2 linked regions of the Homo sapiens genome follow. The protein of the gene in region 1 purifies or fractionates together with the protein of each later gene. This does not show direct contact. Each region holds a gene or a part of one and is shown in the gene's direction. Other genes may lie near its edges.

Region 1 (8,073 bases):
CTAGAAGTTGGTTTGGAGACTGGCTGGGGCCTGAACATACATTGGGCTTCCTAAAACATCCCCCTGAACTGGAAAGATTTACCCAGCCACTGATAAATGATAGGCCTCTCCTCAAGAAAGCAAGAGCTTCATGTGTCACCAGCAGGCTGTTTAAGAAAGAAAGAGTGGGCCGGGCACAGTGGCTCACGCCTATAATACCAGGACTTTGGGAGGCCGAGGGCAGATCACGAGGTCAGGAGATCGAGACCATCCTGGCTAACACGGTGAAACCCTACCTCTACTAAAAAAATACAAAAAATTAGCCAGGCGTGGTAGTGGGTGCCTGTAGTCCCAGCTACTTGGGAGGCTGAGACAGGAGAATGGTGTGAACCCAGGAGGTGGAGCTTGCAGTGAGCCGAGATCATGCCACTGCACTCCAGCCTGGGTGACACAGCAAGACTCCATCAAAAAAAAAAAAAAAAAAAAAAAAGGAAAGAAAGAAGGAAGGAAAGAAGGAAGGAAGGAAGGAGAGAAAGGAAAGAAGGAAGGAAGAGTGGCTAGGTATAGTAGCTCATGCCTGTAATCCCAGCACTTTGGGAGGCTGAGAGAGGAAGATTGTTTGAGGCCAGGATTTCAAGACCAGCCTGGGCAACACAGTGAGACCATGTCTCTTTAAAAAAAAAAAAAAAAAAGCTGGGCATGGTGGTGCATGCCTGTAGTCCCAGCTACTCAGGAGGCTGAGGTGGGTGGGTGCCTGAGCCCAGGAGTTTGAAGCTGCAGTGACCTATGATGATGCCACTGCACTTCAGCCTGGGTAACAGAATGAGACCCTGTCTGAAAATGCAAGAAAGAAAGACAGAAAGAAAGAGAGAGAGAGAGAGAGAGAGAGAGAGAGAGAGAGAGAGAGAGAAGGAAAGAAAGAAAGAAAGAAAGAAAGAAAGAAAGAAGGAAAGAAAGAAAGAAAGAAAGAAAGAAAGAAAGAAAGAAAGAAGAAGAAAGAAAGAAAGAAAAAGAAAGAATGAAAGAAGACAAAAATGGGGCAAACTACCCTTGCTTGGCATTCTGTGCCACTACCTTTTTTCATGAAGGGTAGATGCTTCTTTCCACACTTCCTTACTTTCCATACCAATACTTCCATAAAGGTAGCCGTTTCTATTTTATAAACAGTTAGAAATGAGAAAAGAGGACAAAACTGTTCAAAAAAACAGTTCCTCCCATCTTGTGCCCTTCCTCCTGCTCTTTGCTCCTGAGGTCACATCTCTCAGAATGCACTGTGCCACCCCAGCACCCTGTCCTCCCTGCCCAGCTGTTACCTGGGGTGTGAAGTCTCCATCTGAATGTGGAAAGTTATGTAGGTGAAGGGATAAGGGGGAGCTGTTCTTAGGCCCTGTCATAGATCAACACCCAAGGAGTAGTAGGCAGGGAGGATCGCCCTGAGTTTTGATCAATGCAGCCCCTGTATCTCTGAAAAAAGAAGACAAACAATGGGGATTCACATTCTCTTTTACCAGATGGTCTCTGTTTCTTCAAGCAAATCCTGGCATTTCCATGAACCCAAGCCTTGTAGGTTTTTTTCAGTCTAGATTTATCTGCCTTATAAGTGGCAGCATTGGATTGCTTATTAAGCTTTTGGTCATTTTTGCAAGTTTTAATCTTTTTCTATACCTTCAAAACTTGCTGCTTGAAGCTAAAAAATTTGTTTCCTTTTTCATAATAGCATCCCTTCCAATGATATCATCCCACCTGTGGCCACTTCCTCCTAGTTCTCTTTCAATCTCTGGCCACTCCTTTTCCATGTTCTTTACAAAATTCATTTATGATGCTCTTTTTTGGATGTTTACATAGTCTGGGGCATGGTTCTATGCTTTAGTCTCTTGTTAGTCCACCATTTTTCCTACTTGATCTTATCTAGTCCAATGGCTTCAATTAGCACATAATGCTTGAGGCTGACTTCCAAATGCATAATTCTACCCAAATGGCTTAGTCTGTTCAGGCTGCTATAACAAAATACCATAAACTGGGTGGATTATAAACAACAGGAATTTATTTCTCACAGTTCCAGAGGCCGGGAAGTCCAAAATCAAGGTGCTGGCACATTCAGTATCTGGTGAGGACCGGCTTTTTGTTGTGTCCTCACATGGCAGAAGGAGTAAAGATGTGCTTTTGAAGCCACTTCTATAAGTGCACTAATTGCCCCCACAAAGGCTCCACATCCTAATACCCTCATAATTAGGGACTCAGTATCAACATATGAATTTAGGGAGGCAGAGGACATAAACATTCAATCTATAGTACCAAACCTGTCTCTCCTGAGCTCCAGTCCCATATTTTAAACTACTTACTAGACAACATCCTCACCTCTGCCTCATACTCAACTGACCAGAAACAAAATTCATCATTTATCCCCCAAACTTGCTCCATTCCCTTTGTTCTCTAATTTGGTAACTTGCACCTCCATTAACTCAGGTAACAAAGCTAAAAATGTGATTATATTCCTTATCTCATGTATTCAACTAGTTACCAAGTTCTATTAATTCTACCCTCCTAACATCTTTCATATATCCTTTTTTAACCCTCTTCACTGCCACTACCTTGCTTTAGAGCAAGCTTGTCCAACCCATGGCCCATGGGCCACACGTGGCCCAGGATGGCTTTGAATGCAGCCCAACACAAATTCAAAAACTTTCTTAAAACATTATGAGTTTTTTTTGTGTGATTTGTTTTAGCTCATCAGCTATTGTTAGCGTTAGAGTATTTTATGTGTGGTCCAATACAATTCTTCCAACGTGGCCCAGGGAAGCCAAAAGATTGGACACCCTGCTTCAGAGCCCATATTAGGTTTTTTTTTTTTTTTTTTTGGTCATAAACTGCAGAAATGAACCCTAAGAAAATAAAGGATTTATTTGAAAGAATATTAGGAAAGCTCACAGAACTGAAGAGAAAATTGTGTAGTCTTGCTTTAGGAAGGACTAGATCTGGGGCAGCTCCGGGGACCTCAGCAGGTAGAGCTCAGAGCTCAGAGTCTTCCAGCCTGGGATACCACATGAGGTGGCTCAGGTGCAATCATCTTACAGCTCTGTGGGTCATTAGCAAACTTTCAAATTCTTAGTATAACCTGGTTGGCCACCTTTGAATCAATCATCCAGAGCTAGGATGCAGGAGTGAATGGCACTAATTGGTGATGGCTATAGACCCTTATAATTTCTCAACCCCTCCTCAGCACTGTCATAGACTTCTCAAGGACCTCTTTGCATCTTTCTAATCTATAGTTCTTCTGTCTTTCCAATCTATAGTTCACATGCCACTATTTTTGTATTTCTAAAATATATATTGTTCAATAAGGAGATTATACCTCATTTAAAATCTCTTGTTAGCGCTTCATTACTCAGAATAACCCACAAACTTCCTATCAAATAGTTCATTTTAGGATTTGGATCCTGTCTTCCTCTCTAGTCTCACCTCTCACTACCCTTCCCCTAAATCTTATGTTCCTGGCATATTGCAATTACAGTATTTTCAATTCCCCTAAATAAGCCAGGCTTTGTTGTATTCTCATGTTTTTGCCTCTGCTTCTCCCTCTTTCTCAAATGTCTGTCCTCTCATCACCTGGTTAATTCACACTCATCTTCCCCAGCTCAGTTTAGGCAGTAGTTCCAAATCTCTCTCAGTCTCTTCTCAGTATGGGTTAAGTCCCCTTCCTCATTGCTTCCATAGTACCCTAAATTTAGATCTAATTTGGCATTCTACTCTGTTGCAATCAACCGTTTCTTTGTCTCTCTTCCTGGCTAAACTGTGAGCTCCTAAAGGAGCTCAAGAATTACATCTGATTTATGCTTTGTTCTCATCACCTAGGAGAGTGTCTAATATGTCATAAATGTTCAGCAAATATATTGAAATAAGCAAACACTAGTTTTGAATGCATAAGATACAAAGCACTGGGAGGGGGGCACAAATATGTTTAAAATTTACATTTCCACTTTTAAGGGACTCACAGCTTAAGAGGCAGACAAGACCCGCACATAAGAAAAGTGAAAACAGAACTACAAGACACTATACAATGACATGCACAAAACCCAGTGACTATAGTCTAGAGTTTGGGATTGCATTAATCTAGAAAATCTTCTCTTTAAAGGAATGACCTGAGTAGTAACATAAAGAAAGAAGATTCAGGGCTGGGCATGGTGGCTCACGCCTGTAATCCCAGCACTTTGGGAGGCTGAGGTGGGTGGATCACAAGGTCAAGAGATCGAGACCATCCTGGCCAACATGGTGAAACCCCGTCTCTACTAAAAATACAAAAATTAGCTGGGCATGGTGGCAGGCGCCTGTAGTCCCAGCTACTCTGGAGGCTGAGGCAGGAAAATCACTTGAACCAGGGAGACAGAGGTTGCAGTGAACTGAGACTGTGCCACTGCACTCCAGCCTTGTGACAGTGTGAGGCTCCGTCAGAAGAAAGAGAAGGAGAAGGAGAAGGAGAAGATTCAAATGGCTGAAGAGATTGGGGACAGCATTTTAAGTATGGGGAATAAGAAAAAATGCTCACTGTATTTGAAGAATGCAGTGAAAACATTGGCTTAGGTAGAGGTAGATTAAGAGATGGTGAAGATGTGTGTGTGTGTGTGTGTGTGTGTGTGTGTGTGTGTGTGTGTGTGTAGAGAAGTCATAGGCTGGCAAAATAAGAGATTGGCAGATTTTGTTTAAATATGCCTTTAAGTTTTGGCCTTTTCATTCTCTGTCTCCAACACAGAACACCTCAGCATTCTAGATTGCCTATTCATCACAAATTCCCTCTGTCTCCTCCAGAATCCAGAAAAGAATAATTACGATATTTTCAAAATGGAAAGTTCCCATGCCAAAGACTTTGCCTTCTTCACCAAACTATGATTTCGTGATGTTCTTAAAGGTAGTGTACACCAGGTTTTTACATTCTTATTTTGAATGTAGTTTTAGTGTTTGTGTGATTTGTTTTTCAGCCTGGCCTGCAGACTAGCAACCCAAGACTTATACTGCCCAATTTGACAGCTCATTTTTATTTTAGTTTCACCATATACATGAATTGGACTTACAATTCCAGAAAAATTAAAGGTGAGAAAAGGGTGAAACGCTTATTACTCTATTTCCCTAGAAGGGAACTTTAAGGGTTTAGCTCAGTCTTGTCATAAACTCTAGAAATCATCTTTAGGGTTTGTCTAGACAATCAAGTTAGACATAAACCCTTGTCTATGGGCTTTCCACTAAACCTGTGGGCTTCATAGGAATTTGGGCTGATGTAGGTCTTTTCAAAGTTCTACTTAATTGTCAAGGCCCCTATAATGTGACTCCATTCGACCTACCTGCTTTTATTTCTTCCTACTTAACAACGACAAATAATCTTCCAATTAGACTACTTCATACACTATCCTGCGAGGTTCTGCTCAAGCTCCACAACCTTTAGGAAACATCCCAAGGCTCACTGACCTTTCTTTTCTCTAAATGGTTGGTTCTACCTTATCAGCTTGTATCTTCCATTTCTAATTGTCTATATCAAAAAGTATAGCAATCCTCCCATTCCCAATATATACACACACTTTTCCCAGCTTCTCAGGCCTAATCTATGAATGAGCATGGCTTTGTTGACAGGAGGAGAAAATTGGAAGATGGCTGCTTCTCCACCTTTAGCCTTCTACGGACATATGTGAATTAATTTTATTTCAGATCTTTTTATAGTTAAATCTCATCACTATCATGGAATTAGAATGTCACCTTTAAATCATTTAGTTAATACTTTCCATTTTGCAGATAAGGAAATTGAGACCCCAAGAGATAAAGTGACTTACCTAATATATTAGCATGTATTTGTCACTATTGTTTTACATTGGATAATCGCTTTCTCCCACCTCCCCCGTTTGTGAAATAAATTTAACTTCTAAGAGCAAGCATCATCATGTCTTGTGCATTTTCTACATCTACAATAGCACCTATCAGTCTTTTCTTGTTTCCCATACAGGCTCAAGAATGGGGCATGAGTACACACTGTGTGCTAAGGAAAGAATATTTGGATTGAATTGAACCCCTGCAGAACGTGGACTATTTAGAGACCTGAATTTGGCCTTGGGTGAATACCTGCCTTGGGTTGGCCAACTAGCAGTCAACAGCAATGAGCCAAAAGAGACAAACCAAGTATGTAGTCTTGTTTGCCCAACTAAGTTATAAACACCACTTTATATTAACTTATTGCATAGCCCACAGCACGTTGAATGGTGCTGGTCACAGAGTAGACTCTCATTAAACATATTTTAATTGACTGATTGTCCCTGGATCAAAAACCGGATCTTGGTCTGTATTTCATGGTTGCTTTTGTCAAAAAGAAAGCACCAGCTTGTTCCAGATGGACGCTGTTGGGCTAAAGAAGCGCTTTTCATATAGTTCTATGCCTTAAATTGGCCCTGAAGAAGAGTATCCGGGATTCTGTGCTTCCTTTTAGGTATCAAAGAATCATTTTGAAAAGTGCTACAATAAATATTATACTGTATTACTAATTATTAGATAACTTAATGAAAGGGCACAAACTTTAAGATGTTAAGTTGGGATGAATTTTGGTCTCTCCATCATGGGTCACCTACTCTGTTGGGACCGTTTTTAAGACCTCTGACCTGAGTTAATGGTGCAACTGGTGGCCAGCAACAGATGGAAGGTAGCTATGCTTGAATGGGATAGAATCATGGATTTGGGGATTATTTGTAGCACGCTATAGCCAGTTGACCTACAAACGACATAGCGTGGCTATTTCTACTTTTATTTTGGTCCTTATTCTGCTATCCTCATTTTTAAAGGAGAGAGGTCTAGTTGAGATAGTTGCATAATTCTTCTTACTTTGAGCTAATTTAACCACCCAATGGAACTATCTCCAAGGAAGAAGCAGGCCATTTATCTTAATCATTAACCAAATCTTACTGAGGAGCATTTTACATTATGTTCTGGCAGCAAATGGGTTTAAAAAGAATAGCAAAGAATAGAAGCTGCTTCACCCTATTTTCTGCAAAGAGAATTGGTATTAGGGTGAGGGTAACAGAGTAGAGTACAGAAATATTTGCCATTGTTGATTATTTTTACTACCCTAGTTCTAAGAAGAGAAGTCTTCAGAGATGTGGTTAGGAAGACATGAGAGCCAGTAATCCAAGCAAGGTCAACAAGAATTGGAAACTTAGTTGTGAGGTTCTATTAACTATATTCCTTCTCACAGATTCATTGGCTAATCATTGGCCAATCACTGGCAAAAACAGGGCAATTTCCATGTGGAAGAAGAATAGGCAGGTAAGTATTCAAAATAGTAGGTGGTTTTTAAGGGTATTGTGAGGATCTAACTTCCCAAAATAATTTCCTTAAGCAGTCGTTAGAGCACTTCTGTGAATGGTCTAAAATCCTTATTTTAGAAGAAACCAACTCAATGGATGTCACTGAGTCATCCAAAGGTCCCACTTGTTTAACTCTCCAAACTGAAGTCTTGCTTTTCCCTAGCATGCAGGCTGGATAATGAGTCTGATTTTTTTGCTACTTAGTCAATTACTGATGTGATCACCTAAATTGGACTTGTCTGAGTTAGGCTTCCAAACTTTGTTGAGGGAGACTGACAATATGCAGAAGTCCAGGCCTCTGAGCCAGAAAGTGCAACCGGATGTTCTGCCTCTTTTTCAGGTTTCAAAATGGCAAATCAAAGACTTCAGAAAATAGCTCAGCTAAACGTGAGAAAGGAATGGTTGTCAATAGCAAAGAGGTAAGGAGTGTTAGTAAGTGTTCAATGTTTAATTTTTCTTTGGAGCTGCTTAGTGTACTTAATAAGCTGGATATCACAAACTTCCCTATTGAAAAGCAAAAAGGAGTAAAAATGTATATGGAAAACAAGGTTAACTTGTCAAATGTTATTGAAGAGAAATAGAGCACAGAAAAAGAAGGAACAGGACACATCAGCAACAAATCAGGACATAAAACCCAGGAAGCAGAAACCTATCTTAGGGAGTAAGAGCGTGTCAAACCCTAACTTACGCAGACTTTACAACTACCTCTTGTAGCAAAACTCCACTGGGTATCTTGGTTGTTTTCCCATGTTTACCACAT
Region 2 (3,995 bases), on another chromosome or scaffold:
AAAAACAAATATTCAAAACATTCTTATTTTTTTTTATCTAGCTCAGAAAATACAATTTGTGCAAATTCTGCATTTTCTAAAATAAAGAAAAAAATTTTTTTGAGATGGAGTTTCACTCTGTTGCCCAGGCTGGAGTGCAGTGGCATGATCTTCGTTCACTGCAACCTCTGCCTCCTGGGATCAAGCAATTCTTGTGCCTCAGACTCTCAGGTAGCTGGGACTACAGGCATGTACCACCATGCCCAGCTAATTTTTGTATTTTTAGTAGAGATGAGATTTTACCATGTTGGCCAGGCTGGTCTTGAACTCCTGACCTCAGGTGATCTGCCCGCCTCGGCCTCCCAAAGTGCTGGGATTACAGGTGTGAGCCACTGCTCCCGGCCTAAAATAAAGAATTTAAAATGCAAGTCCAAGCAACCAAGATTTGTTAGCATACATGACTGGAAGTCATGCACCACTTAATTAAGTGCCTCATGAAGTGGGAAGTGCAGATTATGGGTATGAAACAGCACGAGTGCTAGAATTGTTTAAAACAAAAGTCAGTGGTTATAACAAGGAGTATTTCTGTCTGTTTATAAAGATGTGTTGGTTACGAGTTTTGTTTTTTGTTTTTCGTTTTTTTCGAGATGGAGTTTAGCTCTTGTTGCTCAGGCTGGAGTGCAATGGCACGATCTCGGCTCACTACAATCTCCGGCTCCTGAGTTCAAGTGATTCTCCTGCCTCAGTCTTCGGAGTAGCTGGAATTACTGGCACACAACACCACAGCCTGCTAATTTTTGTATTTTAAGTAGAGATGGGGTTTCACCATGTTGGCCAGGCTGGTCTCAAACTCCTGACCTCAGGTGATCTGCCCGCTTCAGCCTCCCAAAGTGCTGGGATTACATTTTTTTTTTAAGAATTTATTTAATACCCTAAAATTTTATTTAAAACATTCCATAATAAAAAATGTAAAGATATATCAAATGCTCAAGGATAAAAATAAATATTAACTGCAATTTGGGATGGTTGAATCATTTTTTTCTTTAAAAACTCAGATTAGCCAGGTGCATCCCTCATACCTGTAATCCCAGCACTTTAGGAGGCCAAGGCGGGCAGATCACTTGAGGTCAGGAGTTCAAGACCAGCCTGGCCAACATGCTGAAACCCTGTCTCTACTAAAAATACAAAAATTAGCTAGGCGTGGTGGCGCACACCTGTAATTCCAGCTGCTTGGGTGGCTGAGGCAGAAGAATTACTTGAAGCCAGGAGGCAGAGATTGCAGTGAGCCAAGATAGTGCCACCGCACTCCAGCCTGGGCAACAGAGTAAGACTCCATCTCAAAAACAAACAAACAAACAAAAATCCTAAACAAACCAAAAAAACCCCTCAGATTAATCATTCATATTGTAAAACTCCAGTGTTTCTTGTTTCCGTTTTTTTGTCTTTGTTTTTGTTTTTGAGACAGAGTCTTGCTCTTTTGCCCAGGCTGGAATGCAGTGGTACAATCACAGCTCACTGCAGCCTCCATCTCCTGGGCTCAAGTGATCCTCCCGCTTCAGCCTCCTGAGTAGCTGCGACTACAGGTGCACACTAACACACCTGGCATATATATACATATATATACACACACACATATATACACACATATGTACACACATATGTACACATATGTACACATATATGTGCACATATACATGCATATATGTACACATATATGCACATATATACATATATACACACATATATACATATATACACATATATACACATATATACATATATACACATATATACACATATATATATATATATTTTTTTTTTTGTAGAGATGGCATTTTGTCATATTGTCCAGGCTGGTTTAAACTCCTGGGGTCAAGCAATCTGCCCTCCTTGGCTTCCCAAAGTGCTGGGATTACAGGCATGAGCCATCCCACCCAGCCCAGCTCCAATATTTCATAGGCCTCAAAGGTAATGGTGAAGAGTCTCAGACTGTTACAACATTTCTACCTTTTATGCCTGTGCAGCAACTCAAAACCATCACATTCTTGTATCTGAGCTGAGATTTTTTAATAATTCTGTGTTGTAAAAGTGGTATCAGAAACAGTCCAAATGATCAGGTCTTCAACAAATAGTATATGCAGCATATTTATTGGATAAGTTATTTCAAAGGATAGAATTTTTGGAGAAAAAAAGTATTACATGGATCACTGGTAGGGAAGAGATCCTACAACCCTGGCCCCTGTTTGGCATTATGAAGTGTCTCCTAGATAACAGAATAAATGGAGAGGGGATGCTGGCTTTGCTTCCACTGCAAATCCTCCTGAGAGTTAGCTGTTTGTGGACAAATGCAAGAAAACAAGAAGACAAGTTTTAATATTTGATTTAATAAGTGAAATTTGCAAACCTAAGTGACCTGCTTTTGTTTTCCAGCATACAGTGTACGACAGCATTTGGTGTAATATGAAGAGTAATTAACTTTACCCAAGGCGTTTGGCTCAGAGGGCTACAGACTATGGCCAGAACTCATCTGTTGATTGCTAGAAACCACTTTTCTTTCTTGTGTTGTCTTTTTATGTGGAAACTGCTAGACAACTGTTGAAACCTCAAATTCATTTCCATTTCAATAAACTAACTGCAAATCACTAAAATTCTTTCTTGTTCTTCTATAAAAAAAGAAGCTTTCCAGGCTGCACAGTCAGGCTGTAGGTTGCAGACAGAGACAAGCCTCGAAGGAGTTGAGTGAGGGTCCGAGGTTTCTGGGAAATACTTTATTTCTCATCATCTCGAGCCCAAGAGTTGGACTTCTCTCTCTCTGCAGAACAAAGTATTAGCTCTTGTTGCTTAGCTAATTTTTCTCTGAAGAGTGTTTCACTCTCCACATCCCACTACCTCCCTAAGCCACTTTCTCTGGGGACCTCACACTCTTGGAGTCATGCTCAGAAGCCCTGATTTTACCCCAGTCCCATCCATGCTGAGCCCTGCTGGTTATGCCAGGCTCCTCTGGGTTGTCTTTGGGCCTCCCCAACGTGTGCAGGGCCCAGACCAGAGCCAGCCAGGGAGGGGAGGCCTGCAAAGCAAGGTGGATCCTGTCTGGATTTTAAATTTTGAGTTTTATTTGTCGTTCATGGATGTTGGCATTAATTTTGAACTTTTAAAATATTGCATGAAAATATTACTTACCCTGATGACTGAGTTTGCTAGCATAGCGACACCTTAAATTGTGCAACTTTTCTCAGTCCAGTCTCTGCCAGTGGGTCCATCCTCCCCTGCCCCACAGTGAGCTGCAAAGGCAATGAGGGTTGAGGGGAGTGAGTGTGCTATGCAGGGACCCAGCACAGAAGGGGATGTTTAAATGGAACCGGGGTCTCCATCGTGTCCTGTCCCCAGCACTCCTGTCACCAGGGTTAGGTTATTGCCTGTCCCTTTTCCTTCTGGGGCTATCCCCTCACCCAGGAAGACCCTGTCTATGTGTCTGGACAACTCAGCTTCACCAGGGCCGACTCTTCCATCAGGCAAGGCAAGGGCAGGGATCCAGGCCCACAATATACATAGGGGTGTATGAAAATGTTATAATTTAAAGAATAATTTCCTGAAGTGATTGTAATATTAATGAACATATACCAATGAATCTAGCCTGAATTCTATACTTCGTCTTACCAATACAGTTGTAAAGTATGTTTAAAATGTTCTTATGAAGAAGTGGCCTATGAAGGCAATGTAATACCTGTGACCTACAAAAGCCATGCAACAGATGATAAAATATTGCTGTTTTATTTGGACTCAGAGACCTATCCTCAAACCCTCAATCTTCTGGCCAAAGTTTAGGTCAAATAAGGATGTGATGTGTCAACTTGTAATTCAATATGTAAATGACAAAAATCTAGTTTCTCAAGAAGAGCTGGACTATATTCTTTTTTAGAGACAGAGACCTATTCTCCTTTTTCCCTGAAAGACAATTAGGAAAAAACTCAATCAAAAACCCCAAAATAAAGAGTCAGAAAAGCCAGTTCTCATGC

Evidence for each region. The genes of interacting proteins can lie anywhere in the genome.
Region 2: the proteins of TSGA13 (region 1) and SCGB2A1 purify together in Homo sapiens (affinity purification with mass spectrometry; 3 studies listed by BioGRID and IntAct, with this or other methods). This does not show direct contact.

Annotation. Positions count from the first base shown.
Region 1 is NC_000007.14:130,683,253-130,691,325, reverse strand, and holds the start of TSGA13 (testis-specific gene 13 protein), read left to right. Parts: upstream 1-4,780; 5' UTR 4,781-5,064; intron 5,065-5,965; 5' UTR 5,966-6,115; coding exon 6,116-6,138; intron 6,139-7,653; coding exon 7,654-7,732; intron 7,733-8,073.
Region 2 is NC_000011.10:62,211,317-62,215,311, forward strand, and holds the end of SCGB2A1 (mammaglobin-B precursor), read left to right. Parts: intron 1-2,409; coding exon 2,410-2,454; 3' UTR 2,455-2,627; downstream 2,628-3,995. UniProt on the Homo sapiens protein: May bind androgens and other steroids, may also bind estramustine, a chemotherapeutic agent used for prostate cancer. May be under transcriptional regulation of steroid hormones.